Homo sapiens: one gene and its partners. The protein of the gene in region 2 interacts with the protein of the main gene of each other region in a pairwise test. Each region holds a gene or a part of one and is shown on either strand. Other genes may lie near its edges.

Region 1 (8,011 bases), on a different chromosome or scaffold from region 2:
AACACATAGTACATTTTAATATCTCTGTAACAAGAGCATCTGCAGCAGAAAATTCATTTATATGTAACTTGTAGTCTAATGTATAGGTGAGTCTTTCAGAACAAACTACAAAGTTGGGAAGAGGGAAATGAAAGAACTTAAAAAAGAATGATGACAGCTTGGGTGGAGCCATCCTTGCCTCTTTACTGTTTGATGGCTTGATGTAGTCTTCTGAAACCTCTTTGGCCTCTACAGGTCACAAATCTCAAGGGTTTCTAGACTTCCCATAAGTACAGTTGTCTTTTACACTACAAATCAATGACAACAAATTGGGGATCACCAAGCCACTTTACAATTGAGTAAATTCAATGCACCTGCTGCTTGTACTGCTCTAGGAATGAAAACACACAGACAGCTCTCTTTCCCAAACTTACTAGACTGGTGCAAAGGTCATTGTGGTTTTGGCAAAAAAACCCCACCAAAACCTAACATTTTCTTTTCTCTTATCCATCTTCATACCCAGGACAGACTGACTTACCCTTGCAAAACACTTTACTCTGGTATCTGTTAATGATCCCTCAGGCCATTGCTACTTGTTTATTCCAAGAGTATCACGGACAATTTCCTGATTTAACTCTTCTAAACTTTTCTCACTTACAAAAAACGCTGCAAGTCTGGACTTTGGTTTGAATATTCTTTAAAGTTCTCTAGTTCTTTTTCATGCGGGTCCACTTACTCCACCTCATTTTTAAAATATAAAACTTGAAACAGGCAGAATTTTCATGGGTACTAATGAGTTTGAAGATGGGAAAATGGAAGCTCCAACCTTGGCCGTGAATGCACTTTCCCCATTCCCCTAAACAACCTAACATCTGACCTTCCACTTCCCACACCCCACTAAAGCAAAAAATCCCGGGAAATTGTCTACCTGACTTCCTGTACCCCAAACATCAATTCTCTACTGTAATATTATGGTAGTTTCCATAGAATAATCATAGCTAACCAAGAGGTCCAAGGCCCTCATAACACATTTAATGCACTGAAACCACACAACAGCAGGAAACAACAGACTACTGCCTTGGGCCAGGTGCTGTTCAAAGCACTTAACATATATTAATTAACTAATTAATCCTCACAACCTTATGAGTAAATACAATTATTGTTGCTATTTTACCAGTAAGAAAACTGAGACACAGCTAGTGGAGTGAGCCAGAGAGTCTAGCTCCAGAGCTCATGGTCTGTGTTGAACAACTACATGTATATTTCCACTATGTGCATAACAATTTTTTGGAGATGAGAGTAGACAGCCAAAACTGTGGGTTTTTTTTTTTTTCTACTAAGAAGTGAAGGGGAAGTGATTCCTCACACAGTTGACTGAATAGGAGGTGAAATAAAGAACTCAGACCTCCAACTCCCACCTTCCCTAAGTTAACCCACTGCTCAACACACAACTTGACCAGCTGACTCACTAAAAAGAAATAGGAGACTCCTTCTTCTAGACTGACTTAGCCTGCCATTTTCCTTTCCAGTCTCTCAGGACCTAATTAAAAACTGACAGTTGATTTCTTTTCCTAAATTAGAACAAGGAATCTCACAAAATTAGGAAGGGATGAAAGGTTAAACACCTCAGCCATTAGCTGAGTTGAACTATCTTTCATTTGCTTATTATTCAAAAAGTTAGGATAATAAATTTATACTGTATTCTTCTTTCCTGCTTAAGGCTTGTCTTTAAATTTAAGCTGCTTCTCTTTAATTCAGTGGCATATGCGCTAAATGTTTTCCCTAGATTATGTTCATTCATCTTCACAACCCAGAAAATAGGTATAATTTTTCATACTTCACAGATGAGAAAACTGATGCTTTACAGAATTACTTGTTAAATTACTTGCTGTACATTACACAGATATTAAATGTGTGTGAAGTTACTGGGGCAATTTAGACGATTCGTGGCATAAAGATAACTGCTGGAAAACTTATAAACATAGGGGTGCAACAATCAGGAAGAGAATGAAATGGAAGGGCCCAGTAGCCCCCTTTTAATATGCTACAATTAGATTCTCAAGGTACAAGAGTTTGTCTATATACTTTGGAAATAAGGAGCAGGATTTTATGATCTTGAAAAATCTTTCAGTTTTCTTATTCTCTAACGACAGATCTATTTTATTTGGCAATGCTAAAAATTATCCTTTATTAGGGTGGCCAATGACTAAGCCAGCAACTGGGAAGCAGCTTACACCACTGGGCCTCTGTAGCACTCACTTCCCCATCTGTTAAGACAGCCATGGCCATTTACCAGTGGAATTTCTACTGTCTTCCCGCTGGCTCCTTTCTGATGTAGCAGTCCTTATCCCTTTTTCTCCAGCAGCCTACATGTTTAGAAAAGCAGCCTCAATTGGCTAAAAGGCCTAATGCTGAAAGAACTCAAGAGAGAAGGAGCCTCAGACAAGTAGCGGCTATGTCCCAAGAGCGGAAGCTCCCCACAACGAGGAACACAAGATAATCCGTCCATCAGCCATTCTTATCCACACCACAGTCGCATCCCCCTCAAAGCTCTCCCAGGGTGCCAGAAATTCTCGCTCTGTCTAGTGTCCCGACTTTCCAAGCGCTTGTAGCCATACCCTCTCCAAATGATGCCACTTGACCTCCCACCGTGATGCAGGCCAAAATTCCTCCTACAAATAAATCCACCAACACCTCCAACGGACTCCATACTTGGGGTATTTTCCTTTCCCTGCTTTCTAAATATCGTAAATCCCCTCTCTGGTCTTGGAAGTCCTTTCTCCCTCACACCTTTCGGAACTCCGTGACTCTCCGCTCTCATGCCTCCGCCTCCATTCTACCCTTAGGGCTCCTCAGCCAGATCTTTGGCTAGAACCATGGTCAAGGGAGAATGCGATTCCGGCTCCTGTCACAGACGCTTAAGTGTGAGCGCAACCCAGCCCGCCTCCTCCTCCACGCCCCTCACACTCACGTGTCGTGGGAAACTGGAGTAGCCAAAGCTCAGAATCCCCAGTGAATACCCTTCTGGGGATGGGAGACGGGGCCAGCTAGGGGCCGGCCGCAGACCCCGGTCCCAGAGCTAGTTTCAGAGGCCAGCGTTCCCCCTAGCGCCTCGCTGTGCCCCACTCTGGGAACCGGAAACAGGAAGCGCCAAGAGGCCGCTGGGCAACCGCTCCTCCCACCAGACCCCGCGGCATGTGACCATAGAACCATTTCGCCCCTTTCCCCTTCCCGGGCTCCCTGATAATCTTAAACTCTGATTGGCCAGTATTCTGGGACTTTAGCTCCGCCCTCGTTCCATCAGCTCCAATCACTATCGAGGTTGTCGTTTCGCCTTTTCTGGTTGCCTTTCTTTCAATGGGGTCCCAGAGTCCCGCTTCCAGGGCCTCTCGGCTCGCGCACCCCGGTCACGCGGGGTCACGCGCCTGACCGCTCCCGGGTAGGGTTCGAGTGAAGAGGGTGAGAGGGGCAGGTGGCGGAAGCGGAAGTTACGCAGGCAGCTCGCCCTCGGGCTCCGCGGGAGTTGTAGTTCTCACGCTAGGTCTCCTCCGGGCGCTTCCCTAGCCCGTTCGCCGCCTGAGAGGGACGCTGTTCCGCCGCGTGGAAGCTTCGAGTCTCGACTCCACTGTTGACCCCTAGACGAGAGTAGTGCAGCGACGGGGCCGTGATGTGCGTCCTGGCTTTCTTAACGACACCTCTCCTCTGTATTTCCTTTTTCCAGTTGAGTACCTTGGGGTGAATTATTATTGTTACTGTTATCTCTGTCGTTCCTTACTGCTTCGTGGTATTTTGCTTGATAAGCATGCTCTGCAACCACCTCTGTTCGCCAGAGGTTACTTCTGCAAAGTAGGAAGAAACGAGCAATACGATGGTAATCTTTGCGCCTTTGCTAAGATCTTTTGTAGGTTCCTTATGTCTTACTAGCCACTTGTTGAAGTCCTGCTCATTCTTAAACTCTGTTCAGATGTTATTTTTCCTGTAACTTCGTGCATTCACTCTCTTCAGAATTAACAATTTCTTCCTGTGGACCCTCGCTTGTGGCTTGTACCTGGCTTTAGCATGTTTTCATTCCGCTTCCACTCTTACGTTGCTTCTATGTGTGCCTCTCTGGCTCTATGCAGGTGCCTGGATTTTTGATTCTTACCCCTCTCATTAGAACTACTACAGTGTTTTGAGTCTAATAATAATAAAAGCTAACGGATGCATATCTCGGTGGTGCCCGGCACTTTTGTAAGTGCTTTAAACGATAGTTAATTCACTTGGTCTTCACACCAACCTTATGAGGAAGTATCTTATCCCAAGTTTACAGATGAGTAAATTAAAGCAGATAGAAGCTAAGTAACACCGTGGGTCCCAAGCTATTAAGTTATGGAGCCAGTATTTAAATAGTCTCCATAATCCATGCTCTCAAGCACTACGCTTTACCGACTGTATGCCATTCTGCATTTCTTTGTTTATTAGTAATACATTCAGTTCAGGCTAGGTAGTAATCATATCTGGGTTGGATGTTGCCCCAATAAAAAAAAAAATTAAATTTTTTTCTTCCTGAAAATGAAAGTAATTTGTGATCAGATAACACAGAAAACAACAAAACAAAAATCATACATAAACTCACCAGGAGGGTGTGTATTTCCTTCATGAATATATGTTGTTTCCTTTTTTCAAAAATGTATCAGTCCCACACTGTGGCTCATGCCCGTAATCCCAGCACTTTGGGATTCCGGGGCAGAAGGATCACTTGAGGTCAGGAATTCAAGACTAGCCTGGGCAACATAGTGAGACCCCTTCTTTCAAAAAAAAAAATCAGCTGGGCTTGGTGGTGCACACCTGTAGTCCCAGCTGCTTGGGAGCCTGAGGCTGGAAGATTGCTTGAGCCTGGGAGTTGGAGGCTGCAGTGAGCTATGGTCTTGCCACTACCCTCCAGCCTTGGTGATAGAGTGAGAACCTATCTCAAAAAGATATGTATGTATCAAATATTTTTCCATATCCTTGACTTTACAAATAAACTTTTTAATAGCATAATATTTAGTTCTATGCATTGCTACTTAACCAATGACATTAATGTTGAGCATTTAAGTTATTTCTACTGACTTATTTTTTATCAAGTAACTCAACACAGCTTTACTGAGCAATTACTATGTGCCAAAACCACAGAATATATAATATAGATCTTGGGGATACAGCAGAGAAAAAAGACAAAAATCCCTGTTACAATCCGTTCTAGAATTGATGTTCCTTTGTTGGTTAATTCAAGTTTTGATTTCAGAAATCTTACCTCTTGGTGACTGCCTAGAGTGGCATTGGGCTGGAGGGGAGGAACTGTTCATGTTGGAAATGGGGAATGGGCCAAAAATGCAATTGAGTAGGTTGATTAACTTGTCTGCTGTCAGAGTGGAAGCAGGGGTAGTTTCCCTTTCCGACCAGAGGCAAACAACCTGGGTCACTTCCTTGCTTCTCAGACCTCAGTGCCCTTTCTGGGTGCTTTCTGTGTTAGAATTCTCACCTCTGAGAACTGAGCTCAAGGTTCTTGCTGGGGCAAAAATTGAAATGAGCAGAATTTTTTTTTGTTTGTTTGTTTGCATTTCTGGCCTGCCTCCTTTCTTAGCCTCATTATTAACAAGCACACTCCCCACAATAAACCTACACCCACACTGCCTTCTCTCACACAAGGTAAATTGTTCACCTTGTTTAGAAAGCAGTTCTAGGATTGTTGGTCTGAAATCAAATGGGAAGGATGCCTCCTGTTCTGTATAATCATAAGAGAGGAAGGTAATTAACAGTCCTAGAACCTCAGCTTCCCAAGTAGCTGGGACCACAGGCGCAAGCCACCATGCCCAGCTAATCTTTGTATTTTTTGTAGAGACAGGGTCTCACATTTTTGCCCAGGCTTGTCTTGAACTCCTAAACTCAAATAATCTGCCTGCCTCAGCCTCCCAAAATGCTGGGATTACAGGTGTGAGCCACTGAGCCCGGCTCAGATGCTTTTCAAAATGATCATGTTTTCCATATTTCAAGGACTAAATATAGTTTTTGGTAACTTTCAATTTTAATATATTTATCATTTATAGAGAAGATGCAAGGATAATACAAAGAACTCTGGTACACATTTTACCTAAATTCATCTTTTTCCCCTCCATATACATTAGTTTATTTTGAACAGGTTGAGAGTAAACTTCCATTACCATTAAATATATCAGTGTGTATTTCCTAGAAACAAGGACATCCTCTCATCAAAATCAGGAACTACAGTATTAATACAATATTACCAAATCCATAGTCTGTATTCAAAATTTTATCACGTTTCAATAGATGCTATGTATAGTTACTTCCGATTTCCCAACAATCACAGGAGCCAAGCCAGAGTCACACATTGTAATTAGTTGTCATTGATCTTACTTGACTTTGAAATTTTGATAGGTACTGGCCACTTGTTTTGTAGAATGTCTTTCATTTTGGTTTTGTTTGATATATCTGATGTAGGATTTTTCTCGGTCACTTTGCCAACCAGGGACCCGTCCATAGCTAGTGACACCCCCCCCCCGCAAAACCCCCAGGCCTCACTTGACCTGCTGCCTGTGTTATAGTTTGTATCTGCATTCGGTGGTTCCTGAACTCTTGTCCCACATCCAAGAAGAATGAGGATATGCTGACAATTTGAAGGATGAGAAGGATGGAGAAGAATTTTATTGAGCGATGGAACAGCTCTCAGCGGAGAGGGGATGTGGTAGGTGGAGGTGGTCCCCCACCCCTGCAGTCAGGTGGTTTCTCACCCAATGTGGCTAGGTCTGGGCATTTATGGATTCAGAATGGAAAGTGTGTGCTGATTGGTTTGTGAGTATGCAAAAACAGTTAAAGTGAAGACACCACTCAAAGGTGGGCACGACAGTGTAGAAAACCAATTAGGAAAGGGTAGGTGTATATAAAATGGGTGAAAGGTGGGGATCAATCAAAGAAAAATGTGCCAAATGGGAAGACAGGTTTTTAATCCGGTCCATGGATTTGACTTGTAGCTTGGCTTTCAGGCTTTAAACTGTCTTCAGCTTGGAGATGGGGTTTCACTGGGGATCTGCCTAGGCATTTGTCTGCCTCCTGCGGCTATCATTTCCTCATGATTATATTTAAGTTTGCATTTTTTTTGGATAGAAATGCAAGGGAAGTGATACGTTTTTATATCAATCAGGGTCCATTCAGAAACAGATATCATATTGGCGATTTTAACAGGAAAAATTTAAAGAATTATTTTCTAGTAAAAGATGATCAGTTACTAAAAGAGGACTCTATGATACAGAAGAAGCAGCTACGAAAAGGAGCTGTTACTTCTAGGGCTGAAGAAGAGTTAATAAAGGAGTTACTTAAGTTAAAGGAAATGCTCCCTTCCCCACCTGCAAGATTAGAGATTCAGATCTCTGAGGGGAGGGTGTGTTTCCTACCACAGGAACATGCAGTCCACCCACTGATGAGGCCGAGAAGTTGCGGGAGGGTGTGGGCCTCTGTTGAGCAGCCAGTGGGAGCCTTTTAGTGGTGCCTCCTTTATCCTTTTGACATGTCCATATGATTTTTTGAGGAATTCTTTACTTTCAGGCACATAAGATGTTCCGATTTTATCTTGTAGCATTCAGCATGAATGGACCTGGAGGACATCATGCTGAGTGAAATAAGACACACACAGAAAGAAAAATATGATATGATATCGGTTGTATGTGGAGTCTTGAAAAAAATCACCATAGAAACAGTGTAGGAAGATGGTTACCAGGGGCGGGGTAGGGGAAATGGGAAGATGTAGGTCAAAAGGTACGAAGTTGCGGTTAGATTCTAATGTTCTAGTGTGTAACATAAGGACTATAGTTAATATTGTATTGTATACTGGTACTTTGCCAGGAGAGTAGATTTTAGGTACTCTTACCACCAAAAAAAAAATAACTACATGAGATGATGAATATGTTAATTTGCTTGACTGAAGTAATCACTTCACTATGTATATGTGTATCAATCAAAATATCTTGTATGCCTCAAATGTATATTTTTAAAAAGT
Region 2 (7,108 bases):
GACCAAGCTCCAAGGAGGGCACTGCATGTCCAGTCCCATTTTCTATCAAATGGCCTATGAGGTACAGTTACCCACCCCACTCTCCAGTTAGGAAAGTGGATCTTGGAAAGATTAAGTACCTTGACCAAAATGGCACAGCTGCTAAGTATGTTTCCTGCCTCTCTTTTTGTTTTACTCAGATATAATTTCCATACCATAAAATTCCCAGTTATAAAGTGTGTAGTTCAGTGGGTTTTCGTATATTCACAAGGTTGTGCGCCCAACCCCATTACCTAATTTCATCACTCCTCAAAGAAACTCATATCCTTCAGCAGTCGCTCCTATTCCCACTCCCTGCAGCCCTGCGCAGAAAAAGTCTCTGCTTTCTGTTTCTGTGAAGGTGCCTGTTCTGGACATTTCATAGAACTGGAATCACATGCTATGTGGCTATCTGTATCTGGCTTCTTTCACTTCACATGGCGTTTTCAAGGTTTCTCCATGTGGTAGGATGTATCAGTAGTTCATCCTACTGATGAATAACATTCATTGTAAGATAGATCACATTTTGTTTCTGGCTGAATAACATTCATTGTAAGATAGATCACATTTTGTTTCTCCATTCATCAGTGGATGGGCATGTGGATTTTTTCCGATTTTCGTCGTTGTGAATAATGTTGCTATGCACATTCATGTATACGTGTGTTTGTGTGGACAGCATGTGGACTGTTTCTACTTTTCACAGTTATGAATAATGTTGCTATGCACATTCATGTATACGTGTGTGTGGACATCTTCTTTCATTTCTCTTAGGGATTTCATTTCTCTTAGGGATTTCATTTCTTCTTTCATTTCTCTTAGGGATTTCTTTCATTTCTCCACCCAGGAGTGGAGCTGCTGGGTCCTACGGTAACTCTGTGCTTTACTTTTTTAGGAATTGCCAAACTGTTTTCCAAAGAGGCCGCACCATTTTACTTTCCCACCAGCAGCGTGTGAGGGTTCATCCTGTTGTGTTGACTCCAAAGCCCACACTCTCCCTCCAGGCTGTGCCTCCTACCCTGGCCAGCAGGTGCAGCAGCCCGAGACACGGAGCTGGCACGGGTGCCACCGCCTAGCACACAGCTGGCTGGCCTCAACTATCAGTCCTACCTTCAGCGCCTGCTCCTTAAAGTACTGCAGGGCATAAGCAAAGATTTCAAGGGCTTTGACTTTCTTGCCATTTGCTGCCGTCAGGTCTGTATCCATGGTGAGGTCCTGGTAGGAGGAAGAGGAACAATAGTAAGAAGATGACACAGGAGAAACATGTCTCCTGGCTTTGGGGACTGCTCCAAGGGGACCTAGAGGATCCTGGTGAGCCATGTCTGTGTTCCCCCATGCTTAAAGAGGCAGACTAGGATGGCGCATCCCCCAAAATGGGGGCTGGCAGCAGTGTCCCCTTACTGTGTAGGAGGCTCTGGCTGTCCCCTCCAGGCCCCACCTTCACTGCTCCCTCCTTCTCTCCCTCTAGCTCCTGGATCCTCTGGGAGCAAAGGTTTCAGGGGCAACAGTAGAAGTCAGGAAGAGAGAATAGGCAGCAGGTGCCACTCCCCATGCAATTTCCGTACAATTTCCACATTCGAACACACATGGTCACGCTCAGGATCCCCCCTGATGGAGGCCTAATCGTACCAACCCACTGCCATCCACGATGCTAAACAGACGAAGCTTTCATTCCCCATTACGCTGCCAACCAAGTCACCAAAATAGAAGAGCTCCTATTTTAAGGCTTGCCCTATCTAATCCGCCAGGAGCCCAGCATCACTGCTTTCCTCTCTCCACCAAAAGTGAAAGCAGCTGCTGAGTGTGGTCCCAGAGAGAGGATGCTCTGCAGAGCCTAGATGCTGGTGGACGGAGATCATTAAAAAATGATGAGAAAAGTCCCTGTGGGGTAGGGATGGGCAGGGAGTGAGAGCAAAAATCAGGAGGAAGCCCCCAGGTCTCCTGAACCAACAAACTCATTACTGCCAGGGGGAAAAAAATCACTGGGGCCTCCAGATTGTCCCAGGCTGGGTAATTATGCTTTGCCTTGGGAGTGAAAACGGGCATTGAGTTACTAAGCTAGCCATGTGGAGCCCGTCTGTGGCATCCTGACCTATCTGCACTTGCTCACTCCTCCCAGCCAGCTGCCTTCTGCTCCTGGTGCCCAACAAAGATACCCCAGCTTTAGGGCAGCAGCTCCCAGGCTCAGAAAGGTGGTCAAGTGCCAGGAAACCATGGCTCTGAATTGAAAAAAATCCCTGTGCTTCCTTCCACCTGCCATCCTGATACTCAGCATTGAATCCCATTAGGCAAAATAGGAACAGTTCATTTCTAGCAGAACTTGGTCTGCACCATAGAAGGACAACCACGCCGATGGGCACAGAGCCTTGAAAGGCAGGGTGCTGGCTGCTGAGTTTCCCACTTATGTTTGCTTTGTCATCTGCAAGTGCTCAGCAGACAAATGAAAGCAATTAGAATAGGAGCTTGCACTTGACTAGAACTTAATCTGCACCAGGCATGGCTCTAAGAGCTTTACGTATTTTGATTCCTTTAATCCCTACAAAATCCCCATGAGGAAGGCACTGCTATTGTCTCCATTTGACAGAGAAGATAAAACAAGGCAGGGAGGGGTTACATAACTTGGATTACATTTCTCAAAGGTACCAGTGACCAGATTGAAACCCAGGCCATCTGGCCCCAGAGTCCGTGTTCTTAAACATCATCATCATCCTGCCTTTCTAAGCACTGACAGTTAAGGAAACTTTATGGAATAAAATGCTTAACTCAAAAAAGTTCTGTCCTATGCCCTATCCTTTTCTACGAAGCTTCGGGGTGGCAGGGGGTGCCTGTTTGATGTAGGTGTCTTATGGAACACTGGCTTGCTGGGAGCTGAGGACACCACTCAGGGAGTTGGACCTCCAATTATTGGGCACTTGATGTCCTGAGCTCCCCCTCCCCACATAAAGAGCTGGATGTACCAGTTGTTACTGGTTGTTACATCCAAACTGGTTAGTTAAGAGCTACTGCCCTGAGCTCGCCATGTGTCCCTAGCCCCCAAGTGGATCCTTCATGATACACTGATCTCTCAATAATCCAGAAACTAAAGGGAGAACTCCTGGCACAGCAGGAGGGCCCCAGCACCCCACTTCCCTGGTATAACCAGGGTCTACTCTGATAGGTCCATTTCCAAGACAAACGAGTTGTTAAATATTCAGAATATCTCCCTGCCCACATGCACATTGGAAAGCATCGCATATTCCACAAAAGCACTGTGTGCTCCAGGTTGTGTCTAAAATCAAGGTAAATGGACACTGATTTCTGCTTGGAAGAGACCAGAGGGCCCCCTGGGTTGGGAGGACATCCCTTCCCCACCCCAAGGCTGGAGGAAGCTTGGCACTCCATTGCGGGGGACCTGGGCCCAGGGGAGAGGCTTGCTCACCCCAGTGGTGTGCAGCTTCATCTTGAACTTCTCCAGGTACAGCCACTGCTTGGCCTCATTGGGATCCAGGTCATGGTAAAAGTCCCTGGCGGCATACCCGAAGCTGTGGAACTTCCTCTCGGGAGTCAGCAAGATGGTGGTTGGAGTCTTCTGATTGGACACACCAGGGTCACCTCCCTCCCATCGCCTGCCACCAAGGGAAGCAGAAGTTATGGGGCCTTCTTTCAAAATCCCAATTCAGGCAGCACAGATTTGAACACCTACTGTATGCATGAGTGTCAGTAATGTGGGTGCCCAGAGGCACTCTGCTTCAGCTGGATGAGCAGCTACTAGAGACACAACTTCAGTTAAAAAGGAGATGAACTGGGCAAGTGCAAAGTTCTTGGTCAATAACAAGCTCTGCCTTAGTCTTTCATTCCATGTTTACTGAGCATCTACTCTAAGCATCTACATGTTTGCCAGGTGCTGGCATGAAACTTTTATGTCTGTGTCTTCAAATAATTCACAATCTGCTAGGCAATGTATTTTTTATTTGCAAGCACTCAATAGCAGATATACTGCTAGCTTGAATCCTGTCTGAAACAAGGTAGGTATAGACAAATGCATAATTACCTGCCTTATGAGATGCAAATGAGATGCCCAAGGTGCCAGCTGGTAGGGCAGAGGAAAGAATGCAGGATTCGGGGGAGAACTGAAGAAGAGACAGACAACTGGATCTCAAAGGAGGGAAGGATACTCCAGGCTGCTCAGAGGTGGGCCAGCCGGGGCATTCGTGGAGAATGTGAAGTGACTGCGTTGGTTGGAGAGAGTATGTGAGTGGGAAGAGTGACTGTGAAAATGGGAAGGGTGAGAAACACGATTGGGAAAGCAGCTGGAATCAGGCTGAGGAGAACCCTGGGGACTTAGACATTTACTCTGTGAATAATGGGAAGCCACTAAAGGTCTTAGAGCAGGGGTATGACAGAATCAGAGCTGCTGTTCATAAGGGCAAACTGGGCTAAATGGAGGGAAAGGGAAGCCAGGAGCCTCAGACCTATCCTGGAGCAGAGGTGAAAGAACCATAGAAACAGATCTCAGCACTCTGGGGGGCCAAGGTGGGAGGATTGCAGTGAGCTATGATCGCATCACTGCACTCCAGCCTGGGCAACACAGCAAGACCCTATCTCTAAAAAGAAATGACAGAGAGAGAGAGAGAGAGAGAGAGGCTGCAGTGAGAGCAAGGGAAGGGGGAAGGGGAAGACAGGAAACTCAATGTATTCGCTCACCTTTGGGGCCACTGCAGAGAGGCCAGGGCCACCAAGAGGCCAAGCTGTTCCCTGCCCAACCAGGTCCTGGCTCCTGGCCTGCCGCTGGCCATGTGACCCCATGCACAGCCCGTGCGCCCTCAGGTGGGGACGCAGTGCAGGAGGGAAAATGAGCCACTTTCCTCACCCACTGGAGAGGTGGCCACGCTCCCAGCTGATCCCGGACCTGCTCCCGACCCCATGACATTAAGCATCAGTAGGACCATCTCAGTCCAGATGGAGCTCCGGCCTCCACTGATATTTGCTGCTCAAATGGGTCTGGAATCATCCCTGGTCAATTTCCTTGTCAAGCTCCATCAGGATGCTGCTCCTACCCCAGCAGCCAAAGTCCCCGAGGTGACCGCACTGAGACACAGGGATGGCCCCGATGCCAGGCAGCTGCTCCACACACTGCCCTTCACAAATGGAATTGTCATTAACAGTGACATTATCAGTAGAGAATGACCCCATGAGCTTTTTCCCTTCAAATTTTTATTCCTTCATTCCCACTTAGTACAAAAAAAAGTTAACTTTCTCACTTATAACTTGTCATATTAGCATCATTATGCTAATATGTTCTGATTGAAATAAAATTCAGGTAGAACCAACCAACCTCCCTCCAAAATGTCGACCATTACTAAGGTATCTCCTCTAGAGGCCCTGAACTATGGTGGTGCTTCATAAGTACCCCTCCCCAAGCAAGTTCAAAGTTATTTCCACTCCTTCTTTTCTGTTTTCACTGCATGACTATTCTGTGGAAATAACATTTCTTAGAACAACTACATAGAAGCTGATAAACATTGATTCTAGCCTTTAATGGCATATTCTTTTCCACTGGGATTTTTCATCTTGGGGGTCAGTGGTGGCAGCACAGACCCTCACAGCATCTGTCTGGCTAAATGGAAAGAGATTCCTGGTGGCAACTGAACACCAAGGGCGATGCTGTCAACAGAGTTGGCTATAGAACCGGCTTTTCATCATTTCCTGATGACATGACACCCAGGAGTGTCTGTACCCTCTTAGGACAAGAGCTTCAGGCTGAGCCACATCTGGTTTTCAAGAGGAAAGGTGAGACTTAAACCAAGATTGGGGTGGGAGTCACTTTTATTATGACTTGTGCTTTACACAACCCTTTATAAAAATTCCTAAAATACAAACATTAGCAGGGTGTGGTGGTATGCACCTGTAGTCTCAGCCACTTGGGAGGCTAAGGCAGGAGGATCACTTCAGCCCAGGAGTTTGAGGCTGCAGAGAGCCATGATCACACCACTGCATTCCAGCCTGGGCAAAGGAACAAGAGCCTGTCTCTTAAAAAAAAAAAAATAACAACAACAACAAAACTAAAAAATATTAATCTAGGAGCAATACTAAATTCCACAATTACTCAGTTGAAGAAACTGCAAAGCCAATTACAATGTATCTTCAGAGTCATCCCTTGGAATTGAAAATTGGGATGATAAATTCTGGGCTTCCAAAGATTCGAGGAGTCATACCCTGCAAGAAGATCATGGATCAAGACTGGGATCCCATGGATGGGTGGCACCCGGGGCCTGCAGGGTGCTGGGTGTGCGGGGAAGGGAAGGGGGCATCCCAGCACAGAGTGCATCCCAGGAGGCCCAGGGCAACTTTGCCTATGGGGCCACTTGGCTGAGATTCCCCTCATGCTGCCTTCTCTCTGGCAGGTGCTTTTTGCCTCTGGCTACCAACACCCCAGCACTTCTCTTCACTTGAAAGGGCCAGCACCTGGAGAGGATGTGGAGAAATAGGAACACTTTTACACTGTTGGTGGGACTGTAAACTCGTTCAACCATTGTGGAAGTCAGTGTGGCGATTCCTCAGGGATCTAGAACTAGAAATGCCATTTGACCCAGCCATCCCATTACTGGGTATACCCAAAGGATTATAAATCATGCTGCTGTAAAGACACATGCACACGTATGTTTATAGCGGCACTATTCACAATAGCAAAGACTTGGAACCAATGTAAATGTCCAACAACGGTAGACTAGATTAAGAAAATGTGGCACATATACACCATGGAATACTATGCAGCCATAAAAAATGATGAGTTCATGTCCTTTGTAGGGACATGGATGAAACTGGAAACCATCATTCTCAGCAAACTATCGCAAGGACAAAAAACCAAACACCGCATGTTCTCACTCATAGGTGGGAATTGAACAATGAGAACACATGGACACAGGAAGGGGAACATCACACACCAGGGACTGTTGTGGGGTGGGGGGAGTGGGGAGGGATAGCATTAGGAGATATACCTAATGCTAAATGACGAGTTAATGGGTGCAGCACACCAACATGGCACATGTATACATATGTAACAAACCTGCACGTTGTGCACATGTACCCTAAAACTTAAAGTATAATAATAACA
Region 3 (7,108 bases), on a different chromosome or scaffold from region 2:
CTGGAAAGTTCTTCCCCTAGACAACTGCATAGTGTGCTCACTGACCTCCCTCCCCTGTCTTGATTGACACATTCAAATGTTCTTTTAGTGTGGCCTTTCCTATTCACACTATTCACAATTATACCCCTAGCTCCACATGTCTTTCTGCTGATTTGTTTTTTGCATGCCCTAAACACATATAAACACAGTCATATGTATTAATAGATATATATGAGTTTGAGTCCTCTAGGGAGCAAAGGCTAAGACAGAATTAGAAGTGCAAGAGGTGGCCGGGCGCAGTGGCTCACGCCTGTAATCCCAGCACTTTGGGAGGCCGAGGCGGGTGGATCACGAGGTCGGGAGATTGAGACCATTCTGGCTAGTACGGCAAAACCCCATCTCTACTAAAAATACAAAAAAAAAAGTAGCCGGGTGTGGTGGCGGGCGCCTGTAGTCCCAGCTACTCGGGAAGCTGAGGCAGGAGAATGGCGTGAACCCGGGAGGCAGAGCTTGCAGTGAGCCGAGATCGCGCCACTGCACTCCAGCCTGGGCAACAAAGCGAGACTCCGTCTCAAAAAAAAAAGAAGTGCAAGAGGTCTATTTGGGAAAATGTCCATGGAAGAAAAAAGGGAGAGGAAGCAAGGAAGCCTGAAGGAGGGAAGACCTTCAGACCACAATGCTGGTCTGACATCTGTAACAGGAAGTGGGGGAGGGAAGGAGGAGTGAGTAGAAGAAGCCTCAGACTACAGTATAGTATAGCTCTGGGATAGTCTCAGCCAGGTCAACCAGGAGCCCAGAGTACAGTCTACACAGGAGGAGTTCTGCATTAGGCACGTGTGACTTCTGGGACCTTTGCTGTGCCCAGTCACTGGAGCACCCCAAGGAGCATGGCCTCACGTGAACTCTGCAGTGGAGCCTTAGAGAAGGAGAAGCAGATGGAGGCTGTGGGTTAACACTCCTTACAGCAGGTTCGCCCTTGAAGGTAGATCTGAGTCCTCTGTGTGTGTGTGTGTGTGTGTATATATACATATGTTTACATGCAGATATAATGAAATTATGCTTAATAATGTATTATTAATTTTATCTTATTTATATCCTCATCTAAAATATAAGCTCCATTACCACAGAGATTTTTGACTATTTTGTTTTAGAACAATGTCTGGCACACAGTAGGCACTCAAAAATATCTGTTGAATGAATGAGTAAATGAATGAAAGAGTAGAAATGCCTTGAAATCTAATGGTATTATTTTAATATAGGAAAAAAGAGTCTCCAAGCCATCTAACCAGCTAACTCTGGCTAATGTACCCAATGAGCTAGAAGACTGGGCCTGGATGAATTTGTGTTCTGATCAAGGACATTGAACACTCAAGTAGGGAAAAGAGCACCATTAAACAACACAAGATAGAGGAGGGGCTTTTGTTAAATTTTAGTGGAAATATTCTACTTTACCAGGAGGTGCAATAAATCAACACACCTATCATTTCAGAATCATCTTAGGTAGTCATCAGAAAGGAATTGTCTTCCTGCGGTATATGCCTGAAGGTAATAATGTATTTCAGGCATGTGACCTGATTGTGTCTGCCTCTTAAGTATCTCTTTGGTTTTACAATTCAACTTCGAAGCTTACCTATAGTCTAATTTTATTATGCTCTTCTAGTATCCTTATGACATTGTCCTTCCTTATCTTATTTCCTAGGCCCTAGGCTTGTGTCACCAACGTGAGAAGCTCACATTGTTGAATGGGCAACTTTGTAGCAGGGACTAATGGAAAGAAAGAGACCTAGGTTGGAAGTTAAGGTAGAACCTGTTATCTACGCCCAGTTCTGTTACCAACAGGGGGTTGAAAAGTTACTTTACTCATCAAGTATCAGTTTCCTAATAGGAAGACAGAGCTATTCAGCACTTGCTCCTCCTAACATTTTCTCCCAGAAGAAATGGGCAAAATAAACAACTAACTTAAGGTGTATCTTCCTACATGGTAGATATTTAAAGTGATTTTTATGGATCTTAAACACAAATGACAGTGTATTTGATTAGTCAACATCTTCAGCAATTAAGGGGTGTCCTATTCTAGAAGGTGTAACCAGGAATAGTTTCAGCTCTGAAGAGAGGAAGGACATAAATAAATATTTTTATTCTATCAGTAATGAAGCAGAGAATCCCAGTAAATACCTTTGTGAGGAAATTCAGCTGACTGTTACAAAGTGCTTCAAACATGGCCATTTAGTTGATCGGAAATAGAGCAAATAATACCACATACTTGTAATGGGGCTATTGTTGTCATCGCCTGGGGTCCATGACAGCTGAACACTTTTGTCAAGTTGATCTGTCAGTTCTAAGTCAAAGGGAGGATTTGGGACATCTGTAGACCAAACATACACACATCATGGTCACGCATCCATCTTTAAGAGGCTCTCCTTTACTCGTGATACTATTCACAGAGGGGACATCTTAAAGACACAGCACACTTGATAGTCAATGAGCATGCAACTGAAAGGAAATGTGCACAGCTGAGGCTGCTGGGAACACACGAACACACACAAGATAACCCATCAATGAGTTCTGCTCACTTGTTTTTCAAAGGAAACGAAAGCATTTGTAACCAAACCCAGTGAAGCAGACACATGTGGTTCATCAGCACTCTCAGCGTTTCTTCTCATAAACATGAATGGGCACAAACATGAAAAATAATAAGCTTAATTTCTAATACATGGGAAATAGAGAAAGCAACTGCTGAAAAAAGAAATACAGGCAAATAAAAGGTGCTGTTTAAAGAAAATTCAAATGTTCTTTCTAAAAAAAATGCTGAATAACAGATTTTGGGGCTCTGAAAGAATATTTATATTTGCGAAAGAATGCTGAAATAGATGCTATGGAGGTAGCCCTCAGCATGCATAAGTGTGTTTACTCCCAGAGGACAACAGTGTATAGACAGACACATGTCGAGATGAAGGTGTCCTAGAAGCATGTCTGCCTCTTCTAATGGTGCTTCTGAGATCCAGAGAGTTACTGTTCCCCCCAGGCCTTTATTTGACCTTGCTCCTAGGAGTATCTCTGGCTCTTAGGGGACCAGAGACCATACAAATATATGTGCTTTTTTTTCTTATCAGTCATAAAGCAGTAAATGTCTACAAAGCACAGGTTTTATATTGGATAATTAGACACAATATTAATAATATTGTGCAAAATCAGCTGAGATGCCAAAAATTGATTTTTGTATTGACGTACTGAATAAAGATGAAGGTTCTCTAAATAAAAAGATTTCTGGAAATGATTTCTGACTTATTTTCCAGATTCTAAAAAGCCACACAACATAAATGTGCCCCTCCTTTTGGTCTTTCTTGAGTGATTTGTCTTTTGTTAACACATGGTGAGTCGGTTTTCTCTGATATAAAAGTTAAATGTTGTTCTAAACATCTATTTTTCCCCATATACATTTCTTGAAAATGGAATCCCAAAACAAGATTTTTCCCAAACAACTTTTAATAAATTGAGATGAAAGCCTAATTTGTAGAATGATATTAGAAATAGCTTTTTCATTCTGTAAAATGTGGATGATGGCTTTTGAAAAAGCACTATGCTACTTTAAAAGGAAATTGCATCAAAGAGGGACTTTTATCAAACGAAGTGATTTTATAATAGCACATGAACTATTTAGAAAGAACTGGCAACGAACTTGGTGAAAAATCTGTGGTTATGATGAAGAAATGATTCATTGTCAGTAAATGGGTGACACAACATAACAACTGACAGAGACCTTTTCCTTAAGAAACACAATTATGTGACATAGAAAAGAAAGTTATGAATACTTTCTGCAAATGTGAAATTGTTTGACAGAAAACAGAGAAAGAAGACTCATATTAGTTTACCGTAAACGGGAGCTGGAGTTGGAGTAGGAGCTAGAAAGGACATTAATATAAAGGATTTTAATCAAAATTAGTAATGGAAAGATACAAGATAGCACAAGATGACAAAGACTGTACATTATTCAAGGTTATAAAATTAAGCCCTATGCTTAGCTGTGAGACACAGCATTGATAAACATGCAGTAACAATTTAGGAAAAAAAACCTTCAATTTTAGATACAAGTAGATCATTTCTCCTTATTTTATTACAAAAAAGGTTACTAATGTGCATATCCACCATTTCACCCAGTGCTGCTACACAGTCTATTTATACTGAAATTATTGCCTCCAAGGCATCTTTCAAAGAAGAAAAACATGGGTATGAACTCACCCATGCATATTAACAAGCAAATATTTGATATTTATAATTTTTATCTTATTTTTTCTTTTCAACCAAATGCAGGGAAGCCAGTTGTGCTATTTTTGTTTTCGTTCTTACCAACAACGCTAAGCACAGCGCTGGCGGAGACGCTGTCCAGAGTGGTGTTGGCCACACACGTGTAGGTCCCGCTGTCATCGTCACTGACATCAGCTACCACTAGATGATCCTTGTCAACAGTGAACCTGTGGATAGAATGCATTCAGAGCAGCTGAAATGGACATGCAGCCGTACCCTATAATTGCTTCACTGGCAGGAAAAAAACTGTAAATTTGATAAAGGAGAAAGATGGTAAACACTTTCAAAAGTTAGAGCAAAATACATATCACTTTAAGAATGATTAAAGTTGAAAAACAATGAGAATCAATTAGAATATTGGGTTAGAAGGGATATGTCCTCTGGCACAGTATTTTTCAACCAGGCCTCTAGAGCACGGGTCCCCAAACCCTGGGCCAAGAACTGGGTACTGTCCTGTTAGGAACTGGGCTGCAGAGGGGACCGCTGCTCTAGAGGGTGTGGTAGGAGTTTCCTTAGGCCCCAGGGGAATGGGGCGAGTGAAGCTGAGCTCCGCCTCCTGTCAGATTAGTGGCAGCATTAGATTCTCACAGGAAGGTGAACCCTATTGTGAACTGTGCAAGTGAGAGATCTAGATCTAGACTGTGCTCTCCTATGACAATCTAATGCCTGATGATCTGTCACTGTATATATTACATGTAATAATATATATATGTATATACATATTACAACATAATAATAATAGAAATAAAGTGCACAGTAAATGTAATGTGCTTGAATCATCCTGAAGCCATTGTGCCCCCACCCTGTCCGTGGAAAAACTGTCTTCCATGAAACCAGTCCCTGGTGCCAAAAAGGTTGGGGACCACTGCTCTAGAGGGAGAGGAAGGAGCTTCCTTAAGTTCCCAGGGGAAGGAGGCGAAGAATAGTTCCAGCATTAGCCTTACTAAAGGGCTTTACTAAGGCTTTTGCTGCCAAGAAACATTGGAAAACCACTCATTCAGTTCAATTTCTATCAAAGTATATATTTTAAATACTTTATTATTTACTGCAGAAAATCATGTCATTTTCTTACATGTATAAACTCTCATAGGAGAAATTAAATGCAAAGAATAATAATTTGCTTTATCACTAGAAACAGGAAGATTTAGATGAACAATCTCTCTAAGACTTTTCTAGAGGGAACTTGTGGGCATGAAAAATTGCTCAGTAGATCAAAAAATTAATGTATAGAGAATTAGTGTATTATTTTAATGAAACTGCCTAAGTCATAAACTGTCTTCTCAGTTAATTTCCAAGTAAAAGCTTCAGCCACCTTAACCTGATGGTCATTTCTTTATGTTTCCTTTTAATCTTAAAGACAGGGTCTCACTCTGTCACCCAGGCTGGAGTGCAGTGGTACAGTCATGGCTCACTGGAGTCTCAACCTTCTGGGCCCAGGTAATTCTCCCACCTCAGCCTCCCAGGTAGCTGGGACCACAGGTGTGAGACCACCACACCTTTTCATCTTTATCAACTCAACAAATAAAATTGACTAGTTCAAGCATAAAATTAGATGGAGACTCTAGGCACATAAAAGAGAAGGCCACAGAGTTCTTCCAGGGTCATTGACAAGCAACAGGGCAATATTTAGGCACCACAATTTTAGGTCAGCTGTAGGTGAACCACACAAATGATTTCGACCAGAATACAGCATTCCTTCTAATAGAGAGTGAGGCCTATAGCCACTTTGCTAAAACTAACACATATCTACTCTGTACTACTATGTCAAATTGAGGGTCTCATCTGGAAAATGCCATGACCTTTCTTCCATTCTTAATGAAATCTGCAGCATGCTTGGGCTCTTTTAAATGCTCTACCTGTTTTTGTTTTTCCTTCCCCTTTCACTGGCTTTAGGTAAAATCAAAAGAAAAACTCCCTATCCAAATAAAAACGAGTGTCTTAAAATACTGACAAGGATTTGAGCAGTCTTTGGTGATTAAAGAGGTCATATTTCTGCTTATTTGTAGAAAGGTAATGAAAACATCTGTTGAGACTTCGCTGTTCAAGGTATAAAACAATGGATGCTGTCCAGGCCTGAGGGTTTTTTCCCATCCTGAATTACACAAGAGACCAGCACGCAAAGATAGACAAACATTCTCAGGGTCCTATTTCAATCACCTGATACCTTCTTGGGTGCATATATTTTACAGTAGGGAGAAAATGCTTATCTCTCTATTTTGGAGACAGCAGACTTCAGAAACTAAAAACATCACCATAATTGACTACATAGTAGACCTTTAGTTCAAGAATAGCTTAAAGAAAGAATGAAGAGAAAGTAAAGAAATCGTCTTCAAATACCTTTCATCACTGGGCAGTTCCCTGTTGTCCTTCAGCCACAGGACAGTGAGGGATAAGGTGTGATCATGTTTCACTTTGCATTCAAAGGACACCATGCTCCCTCTTTGCACAACTGCATATTCGGGCTGTTTAACGATCCATGTAGGATCTGAAATGTAGAGTCATCGTTATCCATTTGGCAAAGCTGGAGAATTTGTTCAAAGTCATTTAAAAATTAAACACATTACCTCTGCCTTACCTTTGATTTCTAAGTGAACTTCATTCTTCGCCATCCCTAATTTATTCCTTGCAACACACGTATAAGTTCCTGTACTGTCCTTTTGGGCCACAGGAATTTCCAAAGTTCCATTTTCATGTAAAACATAAATATCTTCATGAAGAGCACTTCCTTTAGCTCCTTTAAACCTTCATTACAGAAATTATCACAATGAGAATAAAAACACATTATATTTTGAAGTCAGACATAAAATGCCATGTTCAAGGTCAA

Evidence for each region.
Region 1: the proteins of HSPA12A (region 2) and M6PR interact in a two-hybrid assay, tested with the Homo sapiens proteins (one study listed by BioGRID and IntAct).
Region 3: the proteins of HSPA12A (region 2) and NRCAM interact in a two-hybrid assay, tested with the Homo sapiens proteins (one study listed by BioGRID and IntAct).

Annotation. Positions count from the first base shown.
Region 1 is NC_000012.12:8,946,538-8,954,548, forward strand, and holds the start of M6PR (cation-dependent mannose-6-phosphate receptor isoform 1 precursor), read right to left. Parts: upstream 3,109-8,011; 5' UTR 2,951-3,108; exon of another isoform or gene 518-2,950; intron 288-517; exon of another isoform or gene 179-287; intron 1-178. UniProt on the Homo sapiens protein: Transport of phosphorylated lysosomal enzymes from the Golgi complex and the cell surface to lysosomes.
Region 2 is NC_000010.11:116,697,510-116,704,617, forward strand, and holds part of HSPA12A (heat shock 70 kDa protein 12A), read right to left. Parts: intron 3,621-7,108; coding exon 3,434-3,620; intron 1,231-3,433; coding exon 1,126-1,230; intron 1-1,125. UniProt on the Homo sapiens protein: Adapter protein for SORL1, but not SORT1. Delays SORL1 internalization and affects SORL1 subcellular localization.
Region 3 is NC_000007.14:108,187,403-108,194,510, forward strand, and holds part of NRCAM (neuronal cell adhesion molecule isoform A precursor), read right to left. Parts: intron 7,027-7,108; coding exon 6,860-7,026; intron 6,770-6,859; coding exon 6,622-6,769; intron 4,452-6,621; coding exon 4,327-4,451; intron 3,882-4,326; coding exon 3,852-3,881; intron 2,345-3,851; coding exon 2,243-2,344; intron 1-2,242. UniProt on the Homo sapiens protein: Cell adhesion protein that is required for normal responses to cell-cell contacts in brain and in the peripheral nervous system. Plays a role in neurite outgrowth in response to contactin binding.